Linked DNA regions of Homo sapiens. The protein of the gene in region 1 interacts with the protein of each later gene in a biochemical or structural test. Each region holds a gene or a part of one and is shown in the gene's direction. Other genes may lie near its edges.

Region 1 (3,826 bases):
TTATTAAGGGGAAATAGATTATCCATATTTGATAGGATTTGGTAAAGTTAGCAAGCATGAATACTGGAAGTAGTGATAGAAAAGCATGCAAATTAGAACTCTACTGCATTAGAACAAATCCACTAACAAATTAACTTCTTAAATTTGGGAAGTAAATGTTTTTACAAATCCCTCAATTCAGGATGATAGATTCCCACTCTTGTGGCATTGCTAAGTTAGTAAAGTTGCAAAAAACAATTTATCCTGTCCCAGCTTACTGTTCCTTACCAAGGATGACACAAATATGAATGTCACATTTGGTTTTTAATTACATTATTCTTTAAATATTTTCTTTCATATGACTAGTCATTTAAATTAACACTGTAATTTTCATTTAAAGTGGATTTTTCCATTTTTTGGAGCACATCAGGATAGGCTTATCAGAGACCATCATCATAAAATGGCTACCTTAAATTCTTTTCTGTAAGATGACAGTTTAGAGGAAGAGTGCCACCTGACTAGTCACTCAGGTAAGAGGAAACTATTGGGTGGGAAAGAAAATACCACATAATTATAAAGAAGACCCATGTCCCGGAGGCTTAAGTAAGGATATTTTTATAGCTTTTGCCCACAGTCTTTATCCCAGTGATGGCACAGTGATCCACAACTTAAGGAATCCCTTACCACAACTAATACATAAATCAACCAAACTAGGCAGTGGGTCCTATGATACCAAAATTATATATTTGAAAGTCCCACTTCCCTCACTCTTTGGATCACTAGTATTATGTGATACATCGTTGTATGATTAAAAATTACATATATATAGCAAATTTTAACTGTTAATGTAATCTGATTCTAAAAGGAAATTAGTTTATTTAAATAGTCACATAAAATGCTAAGATATGTATGATGTTATTACAGTATTAATTATTATATTGGAAAATTGTAAATAATCCAAATGTTTACCAGTAGGGGATAAATTACATTATAGTTTAGCAATAAAATGCAATCTTATGTAGGTATTAAAAAGAATGAGTTACTATCAGTAGTTATGCCTGTGTGCATGCATGAAAAGATGTCCAAGACATATTGCTTAAATAAAAAGAAACAAGTTAACTTTATAAACTTAACACAGCTTAAAACTGTTTAAAACTTAACACAGCTGTGGAATTGTGGGGAACTTTCACTTAAGTTACATGTGTTTATGGTGTTTGAATTTTTTAAACATGTATTTTCTCTGAAAGCAGAAAAAAGAAAGTCTCTGTTTCTGTGTTGGTTATAACCTGTTATCCCTGTCTGTTGAATTTTATAAAACATATAAAGGATGTAACTAAAAAAAGAATACCATATAACATATACAAAATAATACTTTTTGTGGGTTAGAAAGTAATGCATATAGAGATGAGGTAAAGGAAGAAATAAAATGAAAGGATTATTTAGGAGTAGCTCCATTGAGGAGGAGGAAGAAGTTTCACATTTGAATACCTGAAAAGAAAGGCCAGAGGCAGTGGCTCAAGCCTGTGATCCCAGCTCTTTGGAAGGCTGTTGCAGGTGGATTGCTTGAGCCCAGGAGCTTAAGACCAGTCTGGGCAACATGGGGAAACCCCGACTCTACAAAAAATATAAAAATTAGCCTGGTGTGGTGGTACAAACCTGTAGTTCCAGTTACTTGGGAGGCTGAGGTTGGGGGAATCACCTGAGCCCGGGAGGTTGAGACTGCAGTGAGCCAGATCACGCCATTGCACTCCAACCTGGACGACAGTGAGACCCTGTCTCAAAAAATAAAAATAAAAATACTGAATGGAGCAAAACTGTGAGTACAGCTTTCATGATGGAAGCAGAATGGAATAAGATTGGAGAGAACTGGAGTGAGATGCGTTGGAAGTAAGGTCTAGCTCCAGAGCAGCTGATAGAGGGTTCTGAAGATTGTAATCTGTGCTGTAATGGGATTCCAAAACAGAAAAAATGATGCCAACATACCAAATGCAGAAACAACCTTAATGTCAGTGCTACAGACTTTATAGTAGTGTGCAGTAATAGCAGACATAGTTAAGATAAAAGAGGAAATGCCCCTTCCTCTTCCCTAGCCTGTTTTCAGCACAGCAGCCAGAGTGATTCTTTTAAAAGTTAAGCCAAATGAAAATTTCCATTGGCTTCCCATTTCAATCATAGTGGCCCAGAATGAGCTCCCTCCTCATGACTTCTTGACCTCATTTTCTTCTACTCTCCCCACCCTGCTCATTCCATTCCAGACACAGTCCTCCTTGCCGTTTCTCAAAACCATCAATCTCTCACCTTAAGGCCTTTCTTTATACTGACTGTCCCTCTGCCTGGAACCCTCTTCTCCCAGATATCCAAATTGCTAACCCTCTTACTCTTTAGAATCTTTGCTCAAATGTCATCTTCTCAATGAGGCCTACCTCTGACCATCTATTTAAATTTTCAATCTGCCTTTCTTCCTTTATATTCCTACAGCAATTTCATCTTCTGGTATAGTATCTAATCATTATGCTTATTGTCTATCATCTCTCTCTTTCCTGCTTGCATGAAAGTGTTATGAAGGCAGAATCTCTGTGTCTTTTTGTACACCAATGTATCCCATGCGTCTAAAACAGGGCTTGTCACATAATAGATGCTTACCAAATATTAATTGAATGGAACGAATGGATTCAAAAGCATGTAAAGAATGTGGCACTTAAAATCTAAGAGGAAGTTGTATGCTAATGCTATGAGTTTTAACTTCCCTTTAAAGTTTTTGCTTGAAATGTCATAGAATCTCAAAACCAACTAGTAGTACTATACATATCTATCACCAATTTGGGAAACAGTTTCAGAATATAGTTTGGACATTATTGATAATGTTTTAAGCTATTAATTCACATGTTTGAATTTTATTCCTGGTATAATGTTATTTGCTTTTACTTATAAAAAGCATGCTTTACGTGTCCCTTAGTTTAAACCTTATTTCCTGTTTCTAAGTGTAAACTTAACTTTCTACCTATCTTCTGGAATTATTCATTTGCTTAGCAGAAGAATTGTGTAGGCCGGGCGTGGTGGCTCATGCTTGTAATCCCAGCACTTTGGGAGGCCGAGATGGGTGGATCATTTGAGGTCGGGAGTTTGAGACCAGCCTGGCCAGCATGGTGAAACCCCACCTCTACTAAAAATACAAAAATTAGCCAGGTGTGGTGGTGGGCGCCTGTAGTCCCAGCTACTCCAGCTACTTGGGAGGCTGACGCAGAGAATTGCTTGAACCCGGGAGGTGGAGGTTGCGGTGAGCCGAGATCACGCCACTGCACTGCAGCCTGGGCGACAGAGTGAGACTCTGTCTAAAAAAAAAAAAACAATAATTGTGTAAAACTTTTTTGTACCACTATGAACTATTTCTTACATGAACTGTGTCATCTTATAGATGATGATTGGCAGGAAGCACATGAGCGCCTGGCTGAATTGGAAGAAAAGCTACCAGTGGCAGTTAATGAACAAACAGGCAATGGAGAGAGAGATGAAATGGACTTGTTGGGTGACCATGAGGAGAATCTGGCAGAAAGGCTCAGTAAGATGGTGATTGAAAATGAACTAGAAGATCCAGCTATTATGAGGGCAGTGCAGACCAGGCCAGTTTTACAAGTAAGTAAGTTACTGTGATTTGAGAACTATAGCAGACTAAAAATTAAAGTGAAGTATTGAACTTTGCCATTTTATTTTATCTATTATAATGAGAGATTTACATATACCATAGAAAATTGATAATATATTTCCTGATGATAGAAGTTCTAGAGATAAACTTGGGGAATAATGTATATTCTGGAGCCCTATAATTTCGTATTCTAAAGCAGCTTGA
Region 2 (3,826 bases), about 59 Mb from region 1:
TTTCTCAATCACAGCCACATTTCAAGTGCTCAGTTAGGCACCTGTTGCTACTGGATAGTGTATTGGAATTGGAAGTACAGACACAAATATTTCCTTTATTATAGAAGTTTTACTGGACAGCACTGCTCTGGATTTTTAAATATGGCCCCTCAGCTGGCTGATTTTTCTTTTTTTCTTTACTGTTTGCCTTTAGAAAAAGATACAATATCTAAATTTCAGAATTTGATTTAGCAAAAAATAATTTAAAACTGTAACAAAAATGACTTTTTTGTTAACTACATTATGAAATTTCGTAAGTAAACAGTTTCTGTAGACGAAGATATCAAGAACTTAACTCATTTGGTTTTGAAAGCAGCTTAATATCATGGATCACTTATAAACAGATTTTGGGTAGAACTGATCGTCTGGGAGAAATAATTATGGGAAATTTGGGGCTGTATATGAGTGTTAATCAAATGGAATACATTGCTTTCTCCTAGGAACATCGAAATCGTGTATTTCATGATTTCCGAAATGGCTTATGCCGCAATCTTGTTTGCACTGGTAAGTATTTTTGTATTTCCTTTACCCAGTGTTTTTCTCCCAAGTTGTTTTTTGCTTTCTCTGTTCATATTACATAGTGCAACCTGTGACATAGTCCGACACACCCTACCACTACTTCTAGGATTTCTGAAGTTGAAAATGAACTCTTGTCAGCTCCTGATACTGGGTTCCATATCTGAAACTTTAGAAGACTTACTCTGGCACTCATACCTCATCTCTGTCTTTTTTTTGGGGGGGGGGGGGAGGGGGATGGAATCTTTGTCACCCAGGCTGGAGTGCAGTGGTGCGATCTTGGCTCTCTGAAACCTCCACCTCCTGGGTTCAAGTGATTCTCCTGCCTCAGCCTCCCAAGTAGCTGGGATTGTGGGCGCCTGCTACCGCTTAGCCCGGCTAATTTTTGTATTTTTGGTAGAGACAGGGATTTCACCATGTTGGCCAGGCTGGTCTCGAACTCCTGACCTCAGGTGATCTTCCTGCTTTGGTCTCCCAAAGTGCTGGGATTACAGGCTTGAGTGCACCCAGCCTCTTTTAGACACATTTTTTAAAACTTGCTTACAATTACTGGAAAAAAGTAACTTGGGAGCAGAAAGTTATTTATGATAATGTGATTATGAAAGGTAATGCCAGTAATGTGCAAATGCATTTGAATAACTGAATTAAATTAATAAACTTAGGTTATGCTAGAAATATGTGTTAGTATTGTACTGAGAGACATTTCTAAATTGAAAAAATGAAAATTATCTTTTTTTTTTTAAGATCTGTTTACCCGAGGTATTGATATACAAGCTGTGAATGTGGTAATAAACTTTGATTTCCCAAAGCTGGCAGAGACCTATCTCCATCGTATTGGAAGATCAGGTGAGGAAAAAAGAGGTGATATTCTTGGTAGAAGTTCTTTTTTGAGGCGTGTAATGACTAAATTTTGTTCTTTTGTGAAATAGAGTACAGTAGCTATGAGAACAGTGAATTAACAGTAATTCAGTTGTTTGGTATTTAAGACTAATTTCTAATTCTTCTGTAGCATTTATTAAGAAAAGTTAAAATAACTGCTTAATTTGAGATGAAATTAACACATGAGAACTTCACTCATTAGGTGGTATGTTCTGTGACTGTTGTTTAATGTGTATTTTATGGCAGTTTTGACTGCCATTTTGTCATTTGAGAAAGGTGAAATGAAGTACTATTTTGGGCTGCGAAACCTGAAGTTGTAGGGAAACCTGTGTTTGAAGACCATTAAGAAGTTGTTTTGCATACTAAGAATGGCACTGAACATCATTATCAATCCTGTGTGGTTTTGCCACTGCTTGACTTGCACAATTCACATTGATTTTCATATTTTATTCATTAAAATTTTTAAACGCATGTTTTTTAGGTCGCTTTGGTCATCTTGGCTTAGCCATCAACTTGATCACATATGATGATCGCTTCAACCTGAAAAGTATTGAGGAGCAGCTGGGAACAGAAATTAAACCTATTCCGAGCAACATTGATAAGAGCCTGTATGTGGCAGAATACCACAGCGAGCCTGTAGAAGATGAGAAACCTTAACAAGCATGTACGTCCCTGACAGAACAGCTAAGAGGAACCTTTAAATGAGGGAAATCAAAATCTTCTTTCCTGGGGGAAATTTGATGTCACACCATATATAATAGCAATAAAGGGTAAAATACCCACTAGCATAAATGACAGTAAATAATATCTCTTGTGGGAGGTTGTAGTCTCATTCGAGAATCTGTAAATGTTGTTCTTGAATGCAGCTTCCCGGGTAATGTGGTAGATTAGCAGTACTTAAATTCAGAGTCCTAAAATAATGAAAGCAAAAAAGAATGTTTTTCAGCAATTTGTTTTTCTTTTTGAGACAAGGTCTCACTGTCATCCAGGCTGGAGTGCAGTGGTGCAATCATAGCTCACTGCAGCCTGGTTCTCCTGGGCTCCTGAGTAGCTGGAACTGTAGGCACATGCCACCACGCCTGCCTAATGTTTTAAATTTTTGGTAGAAACAAGGTCTTGCTTTGTTGCCTAGGCTGGTCCAGAACTCCTGAACTCCAGCAGTCCTCCTGCCTTGGCTTCCCAAAGTGTTAGGATTATAGGCGCAAGCCACTGTGCCACTGTGCCTGGCCTTTTTTGACAGTTTTGTAGGGGGGATTTTTGTTGTTTTTGTTTTTTGAGAGTCTTGCTCTGTTGCCCAGGCTGGAGTACAGTGGCACAATCACGGCCCACTGCAACCTCTGCCTCCCAGGTTCAAGCGATTCTGGTGCACCTCAGCCTCCCAAGTAGCTGGAATTACAGGCATGCTCCACCATGCCCAGCTAATTTTTGTATTTTTTAGTAGAGTTGGAGTTTCACCATGTTGGCCAGGTTGGTCTTGAACTCCTGACCTCAAGTGATCTACCCGCCTCAGCCTCCTAAAGGGAGGCTGGGATTACAGGTGTGAGCCACCACACTGCCAGCAGTTTTGAATATGAAAGTATTTACATTTCTGAAAATGTAAAATGTTTTTAGCATTTACTCTTAATTTCTAGTAAGTACATTAATCACTCTGATAAAACTATCCATAATACCTTATTAGCAAATGTTTAATCAGATTATGAGGATGGCCATCTTTTTAAAATACCCACTCTGGGCCGGGTGCGGTGGCTCACACCTGTAATCCCAGTACTTTGGGAGGCCGAGGTGGGCGGATCACGAGGTCAAGAGATCGAGACCATCCTGGCCAACATGGTGAAACCCTGTCTCTACTAAAAATACAAAAATTAGCCGGGCATGGTGACACGCACCTGTAGTCCCAGCTACTCGGGAGGCTGAGGCAGGCGAATCACTTGAACCTGGGAGGTGGAGGTTACAGTGAGCTGAGACCGCACCACTGCACTCCAGCCTGGGTGACAAAGCTAGACTCCATCTCAAAAAAAAAAAAAAAAAAAAAGCCACTTGGGCTGGCTCAGTGGCTCACACCTGTAATCCCAGCACTTTGGGAGGCCGAGGTGGGTGGATTACCTGAGGTCAGGACTTCAAGACCAGCCTGGCCAACCTGGTGAGACCCCGTGTCCACTAAAGATACAGAAAATTAGCCAGGCATGGTGGCGGGCGCCTGTAATCCCAGCTAGTCAGGAGGCTGAGGCAGGAGAATCTCTTGAACCTGGGAGGCAGAGGTTGCAGTGAGCCGAGGTCATGCCATTGCACTCGAGCCTGGGCGATAAGAGTGAAACTCTGCCTCATATATAAATAACCCACTCTGATTTCCTAGGTAATAAGAGTGAAACTCCGTCAAATACATAAATAAAAT

The links.
Region 2: the proteins of PATL1 (region 1) and DDX6 form a complex in vitro, tested with the Homo sapiens proteins (one study listed by BioGRID).

What each region holds. Positions count from the first base shown.
Region 1 is NC_000011.10:59,659,038-59,662,863, reverse strand, and holds part of PATL1 (protein PAT1 homolog 1), read left to right. Parts: intron 1-3,394; coding exon 3,395-3,612; intron 3,613-3,826. UniProt on the Homo sapiens protein: RNA-binding protein involved in deadenylation-dependent decapping of mRNAs, leading to the degradation of mRNAs. Acts as a scaffold protein that connects deadenylation and decapping machinery.
Region 2 is NC_000011.10:118,752,977-118,756,802, reverse strand, and holds part of DDX6 (probable ATP-dependent RNA helicase DDX6), read left to right. Parts: intron 1-479; coding exon 480-543; intron 544-1,299; coding exon 1,300-1,401; intron 1,402-1,915; coding exon 1,916-2,091; 3' UTR 2,092-2,098; intron 2,099-3,826.